Regions from separate parts of the Homo sapiens genome. Here region 2 is linked to region 1. Evidence: fine-mapped expression QTL. A gene starts in region 1. The other region holds a variant in brackets. All regions are shown on one strand. Distances are from middle to middle.

The links. PIP is the estimated chance that this variant, and not a neighbour inherited with it, causes the effect.
Region 2: its variant is fine-mapped to the expression of UBR7 in CD8 T cells (CEDAR, PIP 0.95).

Annotation. Positions count from the first base shown.
Region 1 is chr14:93,203,326-93,211,640 of GRCh38, reverse strand. It overlaps UBR7 (ubiquitin protein ligase E3 component n-recognin 7), which reads right to left and starts at 4,385. Exons shown (of 11, transcript NM_175748.4): 1 at 4,200-4,385; 2 at 1,684-1,817; 3 at 933-993. The coding sequence starts at 4,349. GON7 (GON7 subunit of KEOPS complex) reads left to right here and starts at 4,576. Exons shown (of 2, transcript NM_032490.5): 1 at 4,576-4,811; 2 at 7,859-8,315. The coding sequence starts at 4,604. The coding sequence ends at 7,953. RefSeq lists an enhancer at 4,480-5,339.
Region 2 is chr14:93,225,616-93,233,912 of GRCh38, reverse strand. UBR7 (ubiquitin protein ligase E3 component n-recognin 7) reads right to left here. Exons shown (of 11, transcript NM_175748.4): 11 at 4,698-6,970. The coding sequence ends at 6,878. Among named protein-coding and RNA genes, the nearest start is that of UBR7, 23 kb to the right of the region's middle. The variant T/C (reference allele first, on the strand shown) is at 3,942.

The sequences.
Region 1 (8,315 bases):
ATTCTCCCACCTAGGCCTCCCAAAGTGTTGGGATTACAGGTATGAGCCACCACGCCCAGCCTTATTTATTGGTTTTTCTTTTTCTTTTTTTTTTGAGATGGAGTCTCGCTCTGTCGCCCAGGCTGGAGTGCGGTGGCACAATCTCGGGTAACTGCAACCTCCGCCTCCTGGGTTCAAGCGATTCTCCTGCCTCAGCCTCCCAAGTAGCTGGGATTACAGGCACGCACCACCATGCCCAGATAATTTTTTGTATTTTTAGTACGGGGGGGTTTCACCATGATGGCCAAGCTGGTTTTGAACTCCTGACCTCAAGTGATCCACCTGCCTCGGCCTCCCAAAGTGCTAGGATTACAGGTGTGAGCCACCGTGCCCGGCCTATTTATTGTTTTTGTTTGTTTGTTTTGAGATGGAGTCTTGCTCTGTTGCCAGCTGGAGTGCAGTGGCGCAATCTCGGCTCACTGCAACCTCCGCCTCCTGGGTTCAAGCAATTCTCCTGCCTCAGCCTCCCAAGTAGCTGACCGAGTAGATGACTGGGTGCCACCATGCCCAGCTAATTTTTGTATTTTTAGTAGAGACAGGGTTTCACCATGTTGGCCAGGATGGTCTCGATCTCTTGACCCTATTTATTGTTTTTAAGTCATATCCGCTGATTTAAAAGCCTCAGAGAATAAGTACAACCAATATAATTAAACCTGAATTACTTTCAAGTACATCTCTCCCCCAAACCTTTCATATTAATTACCATCTATCTTGTAGGCTCTCAACAGTTTATATAGTTTTTCTAACAAAGTAAAAAATGAAATGGCCATCTGCAAAGAATAAGCATAAGAACTTCTTTTTTTGGAAAATACAGGTATTTGTTTTTTTACCCACTCTGGCAAATATTAACCTCAGCTGCTCTAAATGCATTTATAGTTACAGTGCTTACTTACAGGAAGTAATTTGCATTCCAAATTTTTAAACTTGCTGTTTCCACAATCACAACGAAAATTTCTGAAAAAAGGAGGAAATAACAATTTTATTTTTCTTTTTACAAAATCCAATTTAAAATTTCTTCAAGCATTCAAGCACATAGTAAGACTTCACAATTCGGGAAATTAATATGTACAAAAGCAAATATTTATATCACATACAAACACACAAGTAAAATGATGGCAGGGAAAGATAAATGGTTTGAGTTTGTACCATATTATGTTTTTAAAGGCTCTAGAAACAACTCTCTCCAATTATATAAAATAATTACATTAAATTTCATTAGTGCTGGGCGAGGTGGCTCACGCCTGTAATCCCAGCACTTTGGGAGGCTGAGGCGGGCGGATCACGAGGTCAGGAGATCGAGACCATCCTGGCTAACTCGGTGAAACACCGTCTCTACTAAAAATACAAAAAATTAGCTGGGCGTGGTGGTGGGAGCCTTTAATCCCAGCTATTCGGGAGGCTGAGGCAGGAGAATGGCGTGAACCCGGGAGACGGAGCTTGCAGTGAGCCTAGATCACACCACTGCACTCCAGCCTGGGTGACAGAGCAAGACTCCGTCTCAAAATAAATAAATAAATAAATTAATTAATTAATTTCATTAGTGTTCAACTGCTTTGCATGAAAAAACAAGATTAGGAAAAAGTGTAGATGGGAAAGAATCTATACTTCAAAAGCATTTAGTAACAATCTCTTGACTATGTTTACCTTTTTGTGTATAGCTCAAATAGTTTGTGACTTCCATGACATTCATAACTGCAAGCTAAACAAATTCCTGCTGGTTCTTCTCCCTCTGGGGTGCAGGTACTACAGGCATATAGTGCTTGTCTCTTTACTGAGCCCTGAAAGCCCCCAAAATGGAAAAGAGAATTAATGTAGTAGCATGGTTTACCTAATACCCACACTAGGAACTGAAAAATAATTAAAATCAGATTATCTGTGGTCAAGATCTTTCTGTAAAAACCATTAAGACTAAAAAGTTTACACAACAGAGCATCAACCAAAACACAGTTGCGTTGCAAGTTTCATTTTTATACTAGTGCTTTTTTTCATGCAAGCACTTTTTTCTTTCTTCCTTATTTATTTTTTGCAGAGATAAGGTCTTGCTATGTTGCCCAGGCTGGTCTCAAACTCCTGGGCTCAAGCAATTCTCTGCCTTGGCCTTCCAAAGTGCTGGGATTACAAGCATTAGCCACGACACAAGCCAGCACTTCTTTCTTAAAGTGATAGGAAGTCTGAATTTGTCAATCAGCTGTGAATAAATGGATCTGTTTAATCATTTTAATATGTGAAAACACAGGAGCATATGTACAGGTTTATGTAAGTAACATCACACTTTCATCCTGGAAAATGTTTGTAAATCTACCAAAGAAAGAATCAACACATGCAAAGAATCCCTTTGATTTTTAGGAGATGCCTGCTGAAGTATTTAGAGGTATAGTGTCATCGTGTCTGCAACTTATTTTTAAATAGTTCAAAATTTTAAAACAGCAAATTTTAAGTAGAAAAGGAGATAAAACAAATGTGACAAAATGTTAAAAAGTGAATATGTAGGCTGGGCACGGTGGCTCACGCCTGTAATCCCAGCACTTTGGGAGGCCGAGGTGGGCAGATCACTTGAGGTCAGGAGTTCAAGACCAACCTGGTCAACGTGGTGAAAACCTCATCTCTAGAACACCCCATCCACTAAAAATACAAAAATTAGCTGGACGTGATGGCGGGCGCCTGTTATCCCAGCTACTTGGGAGGCTAAGACAGGAGAATCACTTGAACCCAGGAGGTGGAGGTTGCAGTGAGCAGAGATCATGACATTGCACTCCAGCCTGGGTGGCAAGAGTGAAATTCCATCTCAAAAAGAAAAAAAAAGTGAATATGTATAAGAGGTATAGTTACCTTCCTCTAGGAAGGAGGAAGATAGATAAGGAGGCTTCCGGGATGCCAGTAAGGTTCTATTTCTTTTTCTTTCTTTTTTTTTTAAAGTTCTATTCCAATAAGCCTTTTGCACTCCTAATGTTCTATTTGTTGATCTGGGTTGTGGGAACACGCACACTTTCCTTTCAAGCTGTGTACATGATTTGTGCAAATTTCCGTATTTTTTTTTTTACCACAAAGAAAATATTAAGGAATCCATTTTATAAAGGTAACTACACTTCAAAAATAGTTTACATATAGACATAACTTTTTTCTTTTTTTTTTTTTTAAGTAAAGCAGGGGAAAAATTGTTTTAGTGGTGACCAAAGGTTTTAAAATACCTGGGGCTATGTCTGGATACCAGGTTTATTCAACAATCTAGCACTTTGCAGTGTAAACTAACCTTGGTCAACAACGAGAACTGGTATTATGATCTCAGTTCATACCACATAATGAATACAAGTCTCTCCCCTCATCTCCCCAGTGTTCCAATCCACCCCTCTTCCTAGGTAACCCTTCTTCCTACCAATTCTCATCCTTTGTCAGTCTTCTTCCTACCCATCCTTTTCCATTTTTGTACCTCGAAGTGTAGGGTGAGTCACTAAACACCACATCACACCCCCTCAAACACTTGCTCACTCACAACGTCTTCCAAATGCCAAACAGATCCTTTTCTCCTCTCTCCCCTCCCTTGCCAGAGCCACTTGCTGTTCTGTTTCCGGTCTATTTCCAGGGGAGGGGGGCAGACTGCAGATAGACATGGGTACTTGCTTCATTTTGCCAAAAAAAGAAAGAAAGAAAAAGTACTAGCTAGCACTTGTCCAACTAAATTGCAGAGGAACTAGCTGTCAAGGAGCTCACCGCAAATCCCTATGGATTTGAAAATCTCTTTAACCTGACTCTCCCATTCGGTCCCTAATAAATAAATAAATAAATAATCTTAGGATGGGAAAATCAGGGACAAAGATGTCTGGATCTGAGAGGTCGCGGGGTGGTTTCGTGAAAAGCAGTGGTGCACCAAGAAGAGGCTGGAGAGGACGGACAGAGCAGCTGCTCCAGGGCCCTTCCTGGCGGGCCGGACAGAGTTGGAGACAGGGGAGAGGGGGGCCCCTGCTGGACACAGGCTGAAGGGGGCCCAGGAGGTTGGGGTTAAAAGGGAAGGGTGAGCTTGGGGTGAGGAAGCGGCAGACTAACGGCGGCCCCGGACCACCACTGGGGAGACGACTGCGGCAAGGCGGGAATAGGGACAGCCGGGCCGGGAAGGGGAGGTTCGGCGGGAGCCGGGGGAGAGGAGGCCCGGGCCGCGCGCCCACCTGAGAGTAGGAGCACTTCTCGGAGTCGCTGCCGCCCAGGACAGCGCACGCCTCATTCTCCAGCTCCTCGTCCTCCTCAAGGACGTCGACCAACGATACCACGGGCTCCAGCTCCGACTGCCGCCCAGCGGCGCCCTCGGCTCCGGCCATCCTCAACTGTCAGCCGAACAGCGGCTCGGCCCCGGCGGAGGCGGGAAAAGCGGCCGTGAGGGGCGTAGCCGGAGGAGGTGGGGCCCGAGTGCCAGGAACCAATGACAAGGAAAAAAAGCGAAGGAAGGGGGAGGAGCGACTTCCGACAAACGGATGTCACTCCTCTCCCTTCTCCCGCCTGCGCCGGACGCGGGCTGATTTCCGCCTCCGGGTGGCGCTTCCCGGTGTCGTGTTCTGGAAGCTTAGCGGTCACCATGGAGCTGCTGGGAGAGTACGTCGGGCAGGAAGGGAAGCCGCAGAAGCTGCGGGTGTCCTGTGAGGCGCCGGGTGACGGCGACCCTTTCCAGGGCCTGTTGTCTGGCGTGGCCCAGATGAAGGACATGGTAACGGAATTATTCGACCCTCTGGTACAGGGGGAAGTGCAGCACCGGGTGGCGGCGGCTCCAGACGAGGACTTGGACGGTGAGCTCTGAGACGGTGCTGCAGTGACCGGAGGACGGGGCGGGCGCCCAGGGGAAATTGGCTTGGGGAGCCCGTGTAGAGTGGCAGACTTGGACAAAGTGAGCCTCGAGGAAAGAAGAATTGCATCTAAAAATTTTTGGCGGGCTAGGCGAAGTGGGGCTCACGCCTGTAATCCCAGCACTTTGGGAGGGCGAGGCAGGAGGATCACTTGAGGTCAGGAGTTCCAGAACAGCCAGGGCAACATATCGAGACCCCGTTTCTATTATTATTTTTAAAATAATTTAAAAAATAAAAATTGTTGGCATTTATCACTATATTTATTTGGGCTGCTTCTACTCAAGCGTTTCCACAACTCATCGCTATTTCGTTTATTTCACAAAAAAACGTGTCGAATGCCTACTATTATGTGCCAAACCCTGAGCTGAGCCCTGGAGGAAGAATGAGGTGAATGCGACTCAGTTCCTGCCCTTGTGAAACACAAGGGGACTAGACAGGCAGACACTCTTATTAAAAGTGGAAGTGGTCCGGGCTGGTGGCTCACGCCTGTAATCCCTGCACTTTGGGAGACCGAGGCAGGCAGATCACGAGGTCAGGAGTTCGAGACAAGCCTGGCCAATATGGTGAAACCCTGTCTCTACTAAAAATACAAAAATTAGCTGGGCGTGGTGGCATGCTCCTGTAGTCCCAGCTACTCTACTCGGGAGGCTGAGGCAGAAGAATCGCTTGAACCCTGGAGGCAGAGGGTGCAGTGAGCCGAGATCGCGCCACTGCACTCTATCGTGGGCGACAGAGCGAGACTCCGTCTCAAAAAAAAAGAAAAAAAAAGTGAAAGTGGTTCTGTGGTCCTCTGTAACTGTTGCAAACCCAGACACCCTAGGAAGTCTTCAGAAAGGATAAGACTTTTGAGCTGGGTGTTGAATAAAAAGGAGTTTTATCAGGTGTGAAACTACAGACATACTTGGAAGAGTACAATCTATCGCAGAGTAGGAACAGGTTCCAAAGACTGGGACAGACTTCATTTTATCACGTATTAACTCCCAGAGACTCCCTTGCCTTTCCAGTTTTGTAGGTGCAGTTTGAAAGTAGAAACATGAAGTTTAACTGCATTATTTTTAAAAAATTGCCTCGAATGCAGAAATAGGCAGGTACTTTTTTTTTTTTTTGAGATGGAGTCTAGCTCTGTCACTCAGGCTTGAGTGCAGTGGCACAACCTTGGCTCACTGCAACCTCTCCCTCCCCGGTTCAAGCGATTCTCCTGTCTCAGCCTCCGGAGTAACTGGGATTACAGGCACCCGCCCCCACTCCCAGCTAATTTTGTATTTTTAGTAGAGACAGGGTTTCACTGTGTTGGCCAGGCTGGTCCCGAACTCCTGACCTCGTGATCCACCCGCCTCAGCCTCCCAGAGTGCTGGGATTACAGGCGTGAGCCACCACACCTGGCCAGGCAGGTACATTTTAACCGTCCTGAGCTGAAAAACCCAAGAACTAGATATTAGAGTCAGGATTTACAATTATGTAAGAAGAGCTTAAACTGTACTTTCCTTCCATCTTGGGAAATACATCTTGATAATATGGATGTTGGCTATAATCAAAAAGAACAATAACAAGTGTTGGCTGGAATGTGAAGAAATTGGAGACCTTGTACATTGTTGGTGGAAATGTAAAACAGTGTAACCACTGGGAAAAAGAGTTTGGTAGCTCCTCAAAAAGTTGACATGAAGTTACCATATGACCCAGCAGTTCCACTGGTAGTCCTCCCAAGAAAACTGGAAACGTATGTTCACACAAAAACTTACGCATGAATGTTGATAACAGCAGCATTTATAGTAGCTAAAACGTGGAAACAACAATTGGCTGGGCTTGGTGTTGCGCCTTTAGGAGGTGGGAGGATCATGTGAACCCAAGAGTTTGAAGCTGCAGTGGGCTGATTGCTCCACTGCACTCCAGCCTGGAGGACAGAGTGAGGCCTCATCTCTTCATCTCTAAAAATGATAATTTTAAAAAATAGAAATAATGCAAATATCCATCAACCGATGAGTGCATTAACAAAATGTGGTATATCCATACAATGGACTATTATTAGCAATAAAAAGTAATGAAGTATTAACATGTGCTACAACATGAATGAACCTTGAAAACATTATGCTAAGTGAGAGCCAGACACAAAAGGGTACATGTTGCATGATTTTGTTTATATGAATGTACAGAATAGGCAAATCCATAGAGATAGAGTAGATTAGTGAGCCAGGTGCAGTGGTGGGCACCTGTAGTCCCAGCTACTCTAGAGGCTGAGACAGGAGGATCACTTGAACCTGGGAGTTTGAGTCTAGCTGGGCAACATAGCAAGACCCTATCTCTAATAAGGGGGAAAAAAAGTAGATTAGTGGTTGCCGAAGGCTGAGGGGAATGGAAAGCGACTGCTAATGGGCATATCATTTCTCTTTGGAGTGATGAAAGTGTTCTAGGTGATGGTTGCACAAGCTAGTGAATATACTAAAAACCACTAGGCCGTACACTTTTTAAAAGAGTGGATTTTGGCCAGCCACAATGGTTCATACCTGTAATCCCAGCACTTTGGGAGGCCGAGGCGGGCGGATCACGAGGTCAGGAGAACAAGACCATCTTGGCCAACATGGTGAAACCCCATCTCTACTAAAATGCAAAAAATTAGCCGGGCGTGGTAGCGCGTGCCTGTAATCCCAGCTACTTGGGAGGCTGAGACAGAGGAATCGCTTGAACCCCGGAGGCGGAGGTTGCAGTAAGCTGAGATCGTGCCACTGCACTCCAGCCTGGCGACAGAGCAAGACTATCTCAAAAAAAAAGAAAAAAAGAGTGGATTTTATGGTGAATGAACTAATATTTCCAAAGAGGAAAGTGATAGAAAATAAAGATTTTAAACACTGAAATTCTCAAAATCATTTTAATCTAAAATGTGCAGGTTTTATTAATCCCTAAAGTGAAATGGTCTCATTATCAACCACTTTAGCTATATATATTTCTTTCAGCCATAGAACGTATTGTCATACAACAAATATTTATTTTAAAAGGTGATGATGAAGATGATGCAGAAGATGAAAATAACATTGATAACAGAACTAACTTCGATGGACCATCTGCAAAACGGCCAAAAACACCGTCTTAACAATAGCCTTCATGACATTTAAAAGATGGCTGTTGTATCCTTATTGTCACACTAGGACATTTAAGGAAGACTTATGCTCTAATTTGGAAAAAGCATTTGTGTTGTTCTCCTGGGACAATTTTGTCAAAGAGAAAACTGGTTTTTCTGTTTCTAGCAAAGATAGTAAAGGCTTAGAAATAAAATCTGTTTTCTTGAGAAATAAATTTCAGACCCTGGAAGGAAAATAGAACACTTCATAATGTATAAAATCCTCTAAGTTGGCAACTGAATTTTTATCATTGTTTTCTATTTTTAAAATAATCATTGATTTGTGTGATGTCTACATCTTTTAACTTCTGGTTCTGTTATAAAGAGTACATGTC
Region 2 (8,297 bases), 22 kb before region 1:
CAGCTGGAGAGAGAAGCCAGGTGGGGCAGATGCGAGTCTGAGTGGGAGGTGAGAAGGTGGAGATGATCTGTGTAGACAGCCTTTTTGAGTAGCTTAGTGGTGGAGAGGAGGGAAACTGAAGGCGTTTGAGGAGTGAGGAGACCCGACCGAGCTGTCCCTGGAAGCTGGATGGGGTCATCATTACTGTCATCTTGTGGGCCAGTCATGAGAGACCTTGTCACATACATAGGCTTCCCTCGTCCCCTGGGAAGCTGGTTGACTTATCAACAGGAGAAGGAAGTCGGCTCTGCATCATTTGTTCTTTTTTTTTTTTTTTATACTTTAAGTTCTGGGTTACATGTGCAGAACGTATAGGTTTGTTACATAGGTATACACGTGCCATGGTGGTTTGCTGCACCCATCAACCCGTCACCTACATTAGGTATTTCTCCTAATGCTGTCCTTCCCCTAACCCCCGACCCTCTGACAGGCCCCGGTGTGTGATGTTCCCCTTCCTGTGTCCATGTGTTCTCATTGTTCACCTCCCACTTATAAGTGAGAACATGCGGTGTTTGGTTTTCTGTTCCTGTGTAAGTTTGCTGAGAATGATGGTTTCCAGCTTCATCCATGTCCCTGCAACGAACATGAACTCATCCTTTTTATGGCTGCATAGTATTCCATGGTGTACATGTGCCACATTTTCTCTATCCAGTCTACTGTTGATGGGCATTTGGGTCGCACCATTTGTTCTTAAGGACTCCTCACTTCCTATTTTCAGCTCCTCTCTCCTGGGGTTCAGAAATCATTCCACAGTAGCTGCTAGTTTGTTTTAGAAGCCTCTAGGGGACACCTGTCAGGTCACCAGTCCATAGTTTCCAGAATCTACCATCCCCCACCTAAAAGTACAAAAGCAAATGAATTGAGATATATGGTCGTTTCTGGCGTTGGGGCCCGTGTCTCTCTCTCGGTCGTCGGTCGTCCTGCATAGATTGCCTGCGGTGTGCTGTGAATAGTTTCCAGGCCACGTCCTCAGGGCCTCCCGGCTCCTTCCGCCCGTGCTCGCCTGCTTTTGCTCTGCGTGTTCAAGGCTGTCCTCTCACAGAAAGTGTGGAAGCCAGTCATGTGTTTCCACGCTCCCTGTGGTCAGCTAACTGTCCTTGCTCCACAGCTGGCTTTATACATGGCACTCACGGTCTTGGGGTTTCTCACGGGCGTCACCCCAGTCTGGAGTTTAGCTCCATGGCCCACCCAACAGGTCCATCTGTTCTGTCTCCAAGCCTCTTGGCCATGGACCCTTTTTTATTCTGTCTCTGAAACCCAGAGCTCACCAGTTCCGTACAACCACGTCCATTTCCTCCCAGTGCCAGCCCGGTGCCTTTCCCCCGGCCTGGGACTAAGCTGTGTCCCTCGGAGAGCTCGCCGCTGCTTTGAGCCTCATCTAGCAGAGCCTTGGATTCTGGGCTGTCATGCCTTGTCTCCAAGCTTTGGGGAGTGTTCCTGTGCCCGCTGCTGGCCTGTCGGGGGGTCTTCAGAGAGGGTGAGGAGGCGGAGCCAGGAAAGCCTGCCTGGGAGGAGGGAGGAAGGCACGGACTGGGGGATCCTCGGGGCGCCTGCAGGGCAGGGCCAGGGCAGGGCCAGGGCTGGGCCTGCCTCTGCCACTTCCTGGCTGTGGAAGCTGGGGCAAAGCGCCTAACTGAGTCTCCTCATCCTTAAGCTGGAGATGATGCGAGTGCGCTTCTTGAGCGCTGGTCGCGAAATTTCCATGTCTGACTCGCGATCCTCAAGTCACCGTGTGCAATAGTTCTCATCCTCAGGCTCAGGTGAAGAAACTCCTCCTCAATACCCACCTTGGAGGGCTGCTGCGGGGTCCTGTGGGCACCTGTTGACGCCTGTACTCTCCTGGAATTCCTTACCCTTCATTTAGCTAGCTCCACAAATATCCTCCATCTCTGGAATCTTCTGGTACAGCCGTTGCCAACCCTTTTGGCACCAGGGACCGGTTTCATGAAAGACAATTTTTCCACGGACAGGGGTCGGGGGGGTGGTTTCGGGATGATTCAAGCGCATTACTTTTAGCATTGGATTCTCATAAGGAGCACGCAACCTAGATCCCTCGCATGCGCAGTTCTCAATAGAGTTCTCCTGTGAGAATCTAATTCTGCCGCGGATCTAGCAGGAGGCGGAGCTCAGGCGATAACTCTCGCCGCGCACCTACTGCTGTGTGGCGCCGATCCTAACGGGCCATGGACGGTACCGTGGGCCCCCTGTTCTAGCAGATGCACCATAAATGCCTCCCTGCCCTCTGAGACTGAACTAAAAGCAATTGTTCTTCCCATCTCTCCATGTTCCAACGGAGCCACTGAAATCCCTGGGGAGTCCCTGGGAAGTCCAGCTGTAAGTGATCCCGAGAGAACTCAGTGCCCCCAGCATCCCACCATTCCCGGGGCTGATGGGACTGGGCTCTTTGCAGAGTTGCAGTCAGGTGACCCTGTGCCTGCCAATCCCGCTCTCCCGAGTCATTCGCCAGCCTTCTTCCTACAGAAGTCCCCTGATCGCACCCACGGTTGTTTCTCCAGCCTGCTCAGGGTGTCCTCCCTGCCCCCCAGTGCCAGCGTCCTTGTGCTCCTACCCCTCCCCTCCTGCCTCCTGTCCTGGCTGCCCTCCTAGCTCCTCCTCGCCCACTTAGCCCTCTCCCAGGACGTGGGCTCCTTCTCGCTCTTTCCACGGACTCTGTGTCAGGAAGGGCGGCGGGTGACGTCTCTAACACCCCAGCACCTCTCCAGCCCCCACGGCCCAGTGTCCCGCTCCCACCTTTGCAGCTGCCACCCCCAGTCACTCCTTTCGTATCCTGAAGGCTTTGGCTCCAACCTAACATCCTCTCCCTCCAATCCCTGGTGTCATCCTGGTAGCTGCCTAGACCGTCTCCAGCTACCTGTCCATGGCACAGCTCTCCCCTGTCCCCAGAATATCTCCATCTTTGAAATGCTAACCTCACTGCCCGCTCTCAGGCCGGATCGCCTCCTGTCCAGAGCCTCTCCCTGGTCCTCCTCTGGAACTCTGGCCTCCTTGCTCCCCTGCCAGGATGGCCCAGCTTCCATAGGTGGCAGCCGTCTCACCATGCCCAGCTGCGACCCATCCTCCCCGCCCAACTCAACCCATAAACAGTGTGTCCATCTTCAGCTTTGGGAGACTGAAGACAGCCACGCCCCCGTGGTACCTGTGGTCCCCAGCCTCCCGTGGCTCGGTGTGCCTGAGTCCTGCGGGTCAGCCTTAACGTGTTCTCCTCGGGGCCACTTTCCGCCCCCTCCTCTCACCTGAGCCGCCCTCCAGCGCACTCCTTCCCCCCACCTCCTCTTACCTGAGCCATGCTCCAGCTCACTCCTCCCCTCCCACCTCCCAGGGAAATGGAGGCTGCCTATGGAACTCCCTCGATTTTGAGGCCTCATTCCAACACCCTCACCCGCATCCCCCACCACCAGGTCTGGTGGTCCTTCTGTCCCATCCTATCCCATCTTCTAACAGCTCCAACATCACCTGCGGTCCACTCTCAGCAATGGCTCCACCTTAAGAATGTGCGTTGGCCCAAGTGTCTCTGAACTTCAACAAGCAACTCCCTGGACTGGCCTTCTGCAGCCGCGCCCTCTCCTTGTCCCCTCACAGTAGTGCCAACTGTGGCCTCTTCTTGCAGCCCACACCCTGCCCTCTGCAATCTGGCCTCTGAACTTACCATGGGTGATGACCGTAAGTCCACATCCAAGGTAGCAGGAGTTGTGGGGAGGCCAAAGATGGGCCACTATACTGGCTTTTTGGGTTGCTTTTATATTTACTTAGAAATAATGGCTACTGTGTAGGGTGGACCTCACATTTTCCTCAGGATGTGGGCTCCAGCCCTCTCTCCCTCTGCATGCAGCAGTACCTGAACACTGTGACTGGTCACAGCCCAGCCCATTGCTTTGTTCTGC[T/C]GTTCATCTAGACCCCAATTATTAGACCCCAGGGGGTATGGTGAAGTCGGGGGGATGAAGGAGCTCTGCTCGGGGGACCTGGGATCAGGCTGCATTTTACAGAACAGCAGAATAATGAGCTACCCAATGTCGTGAACCAGTCCCTCTGCTTTGAGGGCAGGACCTCAGGGCAGGAAGAGCTGTTAGAATACACCATTACGTTTCTTTTGAAGGATGAGGTCTCACTCTGTTGCCCAGGCTGGAGTGCAGTGAGTGGCTGGCTATTCACAGGTGCAACCACGGCACTCTATAGCCTCCAACTCCTGGGCTCAAGCAATCCTCCTGCATCAGCCTCCCAAGTAGCTGGGACTACAGGCGTGAACCTCCATGCCCGGCTCTATGCATTTTTTCTTTTTTTTTTTTTTTTGAGACAGTCTCGCTCTGTCGCCCAGGCTGGAGGGCAGTGGCGTGATCTCGGCTCACTGCAAGCTCTGCCTCCCGGGTTCACGCCATTCTCCTGCCTCAGCCTCCCGAGTAGCTGGGACTACAGTCGCCCGCCACCACACCCAGCTAATTCTTTGTATTTTTATTAGAGATGGGGTTTCACCATGTTAGCCAGGATGGTCTCGATCTCCTGACCTCGTGATCTGCCTGCCTCGGCCTCTCAAAGTGCTGGGATTACAGGCGTGAGCCACCGCGCCCTGCCTGCATTTTCTTAAAACCTGCAGAGGGAGGCTGTGTAGACTTAAATATACTAAAAACAATCTGAAAAGCAACTATTTTGTATTGGTTTTATTTAAATTTTACAGAAACCTGATCAGAGTTAAGTATGTAATTATAAGTCCAGTAACAATTTCTACAAAAATGCACATACAATGCCAGAACTCCTTAAAAGCAACTAATATCATATTTGTGTTTTGCATAAAACATGCATTAATATGTTGGCCAAAATCAGTCTCTACAAGAAGAGACAGTCCAATACAGTCAATAAGAAAACTAGTTGTGAACAACAGGTAAAAAAAGAGGTTTCCAGTTAATGTGAAAGAAGGAATAGTACCTTTCATAAAACAAGCCCTTCAGCGCTGAGTTAACTGATCGGTACTATTGTGCTGCACGTAATGTAACACATCACCTCCAAGACTTGGTCCTGATTGGTCATAGGAAGTAAGGGACTTTCTGGTAGTTACATCAGATATTTGAGAAGATTAAAAGTTTTCCGGACATGATGGTATACTAATAGTGCAACCTTGCAAAAAGGGTTCGAAACATTGTCAGACTTGGAAGAGTTCCCCAGCTTGATAAACAACCTCAAAGACACCCCGAGCCTTTGAACGGAGCCCTCTGCACAAGGCCAGCTCAGGGCTCACCAGCATGTCCTGTGGCCACAAGACCTTCCAGCTCCACATACCACCCTTCGTGAGGATCTGCAATTAGGAGCCTGAGTGCCGAAGAACATGGTTGTGCCATTTCTTTGAGGCTTTGACTTTTTATAAGGCCTAGTTCATCTCATCCAGGGATTGGGCACTCGAATGAATACACAGATGCTGGACACATAAGGAGTATTAATATACATGGTGGCCCCACAGCCTGAAATGCTTTTATTAACATACATCAAGGTGTGTCTCCGACTGTCAGGAAAGACCTTGGTCCTCCAGAGGCAGAGAGAAGCTGAGGGTTCTCTATGTATCACAAGGCATTTCCTACATAGACTGAGGGGTGTTAAAGAGATCTCATATCAACTGAAAGGACTTCCCCTCAAATGTGGGGCTCTGTACAACCTTCCATGAGGATCTTCAAAAAAAAGATCTCATAGTCGTTAGGGAAGTGGCGGTGGACATTAACATTATATACACAAAACTCATCATTCGTGCAGCCTCGGGCCTTGTTTGTAATCTCTTCCACAGTCTGTCTCTTCCAAAACAGGGCTCCCTGCCCTGCTTATTTCAAGTAAGCTAAGTCAGGATCTGTTTTCTTTAGCAGATTCAAGGGGGAAAAATAATAATTTATTGGGGTTCTAATAACATTTTCATAACAGAATATCAAAATAGGTCCATTTTTGATATATGCTTATGAATATCCCTGATAATATCAAGAAATCCAGAGGACTTCGTAAACCACCAAGATTTCACAGGGGTGAGACCCGGTCTGTTTTCTAGGCAGCAGAGAAGGGACTAGTATACGGGCAAATGTTCTCCAGGAAGCCCTGTGAGCACTACAGTACTGAAATTCTAATTCTAGTGCCAATAGAATCATGAACGAAAATTTCACTTGAACTGTATTAGTAAAATTCATAACAAAGGCTTGCTTCCTCAACCCTGTCATCTGTTAATCTCTCCGCCTGTGACAGACATCCAGACCAGAAAACCATCAGTCCTGGCTACTCTGGAGGTTGGGCCTAGAGAAAACAAGCCCCAAGATCCTTTCTAAGCTATGACCAAACCTCAGAAAACAGGGACGTGAAAGAAGGAGCAGACCAGGCTTGAGGAAGCTTTGACCCAAGGCACCACGATCATAGGGGCGAGGGGACCTGTAGAGGTTCTAGGTGACGGGAAGAGAGCCTTCCGTGATGCCTGCGGAGGAGGTTCTGGAAGGCAACAGCTCTGTGGCAAAACACACACATCTGGGAGTGAAATAACAGATCATTAAACAAGACACCAATTTGCTTTCTCAAAACAAAATCAAACTTAAAAACTATGCAAATAACCCTGGGTGCACTGGAGTAGGAGTACACTGGAGAAGTCTGTGGAATGAGCTGCATCAGCTGAGTCACAGAGGACGCTGGCTGTGAAGTCAGCATCCACACGGTGGCTACTGCAGCTAAAGAGAATGAAGGGAGCGCGAGGCCTCTCCAAACAGAGGAGGACGGAAAGGGGGCCAAATGTGAACCACACCTCTTTTATTCCAAGAATGGGAAGCGCATTTTCATTGGCTTGAATGAGAAAGCTTCATACTCCACTCTAGCTGCAGTAATACTGCATCCCATCCACTCTTCTTCTCTTTTTTGACTGAAACTCTTCAAAGAACTGCTGAATGTCCTCTCTCTTAACAACCTGTTTTTGAAAAGCAAAGATTATGAAAGAGAACTAAGTAACAGAATCGCAATCCGAGGTCATAGCATTCACAAACAAGTCAAATGATACTGTTAAGAATTATGTTAATGATAACATCTCCATTTTCTATTTTTTTTTTTTTTTTTTTTTGAGATGGAGTGTCGCTCTGTCACCCAGGCTGGAGTGCAGTGGCACGATCTCGGCTCACTGCAAGCTCTGCCTCCCGGGTTAACACCATTCTCCTGCCTCAGCCTCCCGAGTAGCTGGGACTACAGGCGCCCGCCACCAAGCCCGGCTAATTTTTTTTTGTATTTTTAGTAGAGACGGGGTTTCACCGTGTTAGCCAGGATGGTCTCGATCTCCTGACCTCATGATCCGCCTGCCTCGGCCTCCCAAAGTGCTGGGATTACAGGCGTGAGCCACCGTGCCCAGCCTACGCCTGGCTAATTTTTAAATTTTGTGTAGATACGAGGTCTCACTATATTATCCATGCTGGTCTCAAACTTCTGAGCTCAAGTGATCCTCCCGCTTCCTCCCAGAATGCTGGGATTACAGGTGTGAGCCATGACACCCAGCATGTTTATTTTTTACTGAGGTAACACATGCTTATTGTTAAGAAAGAAGGACAGTGAGACAAGGAAAGTGAAGGAAAGAGAAAGAAAAATAGAGCACGTGAATGAATTCGAGCAAAAAGGGAAAGAGATAAAGAGAAAGTAAGAAAGAGGGGTATAAAGTGAAAACTTCCCTCTCATTCCCTAGTAAGTGTGGCTACCATACTCAAAAGAGCAACTTGGAATAATGCTAACTTGGAATAATTTTCTCAGACCAGTAGCTGATACACCAGTTTCATAAGCACCAACAGTAATACTGCTGCTCAACCAGTGAGGAATCCAAACCCCTAACAGATTCAGGATGCAGAGGCTGAACACATCCTGAAATGACTGCAGCTCAAAATTCTAATGTACTTGGCTAAATGGCACGGGAATTTACACTTAACAAAATGCTAATAAATAGGATACTTGCAAGTTGCAAAATGAAGGATCTGTCCCTACCCTGGATTACAAACATTAGCCACAGAAAGCCCGTAAGTAAAAGGAAATATCTCTAGCAAGGATACTGTAGGAGGAGACCTAACAACACACAAATGAGACTGTGCAGCTTTTGGTTTCTGGATATCCTCAAATGGTCACAGCTAACGTGCAGAGTAGAAACGCTAGTGAATAAATACTTGGGTTCAATAACAAATCAGTTTTTTAATTTATTTCAGAAAATGTGTAGTTTCTAAGTTTATTAATTATTATTGCTTTTTAGAGACAGGGTCTCGCTC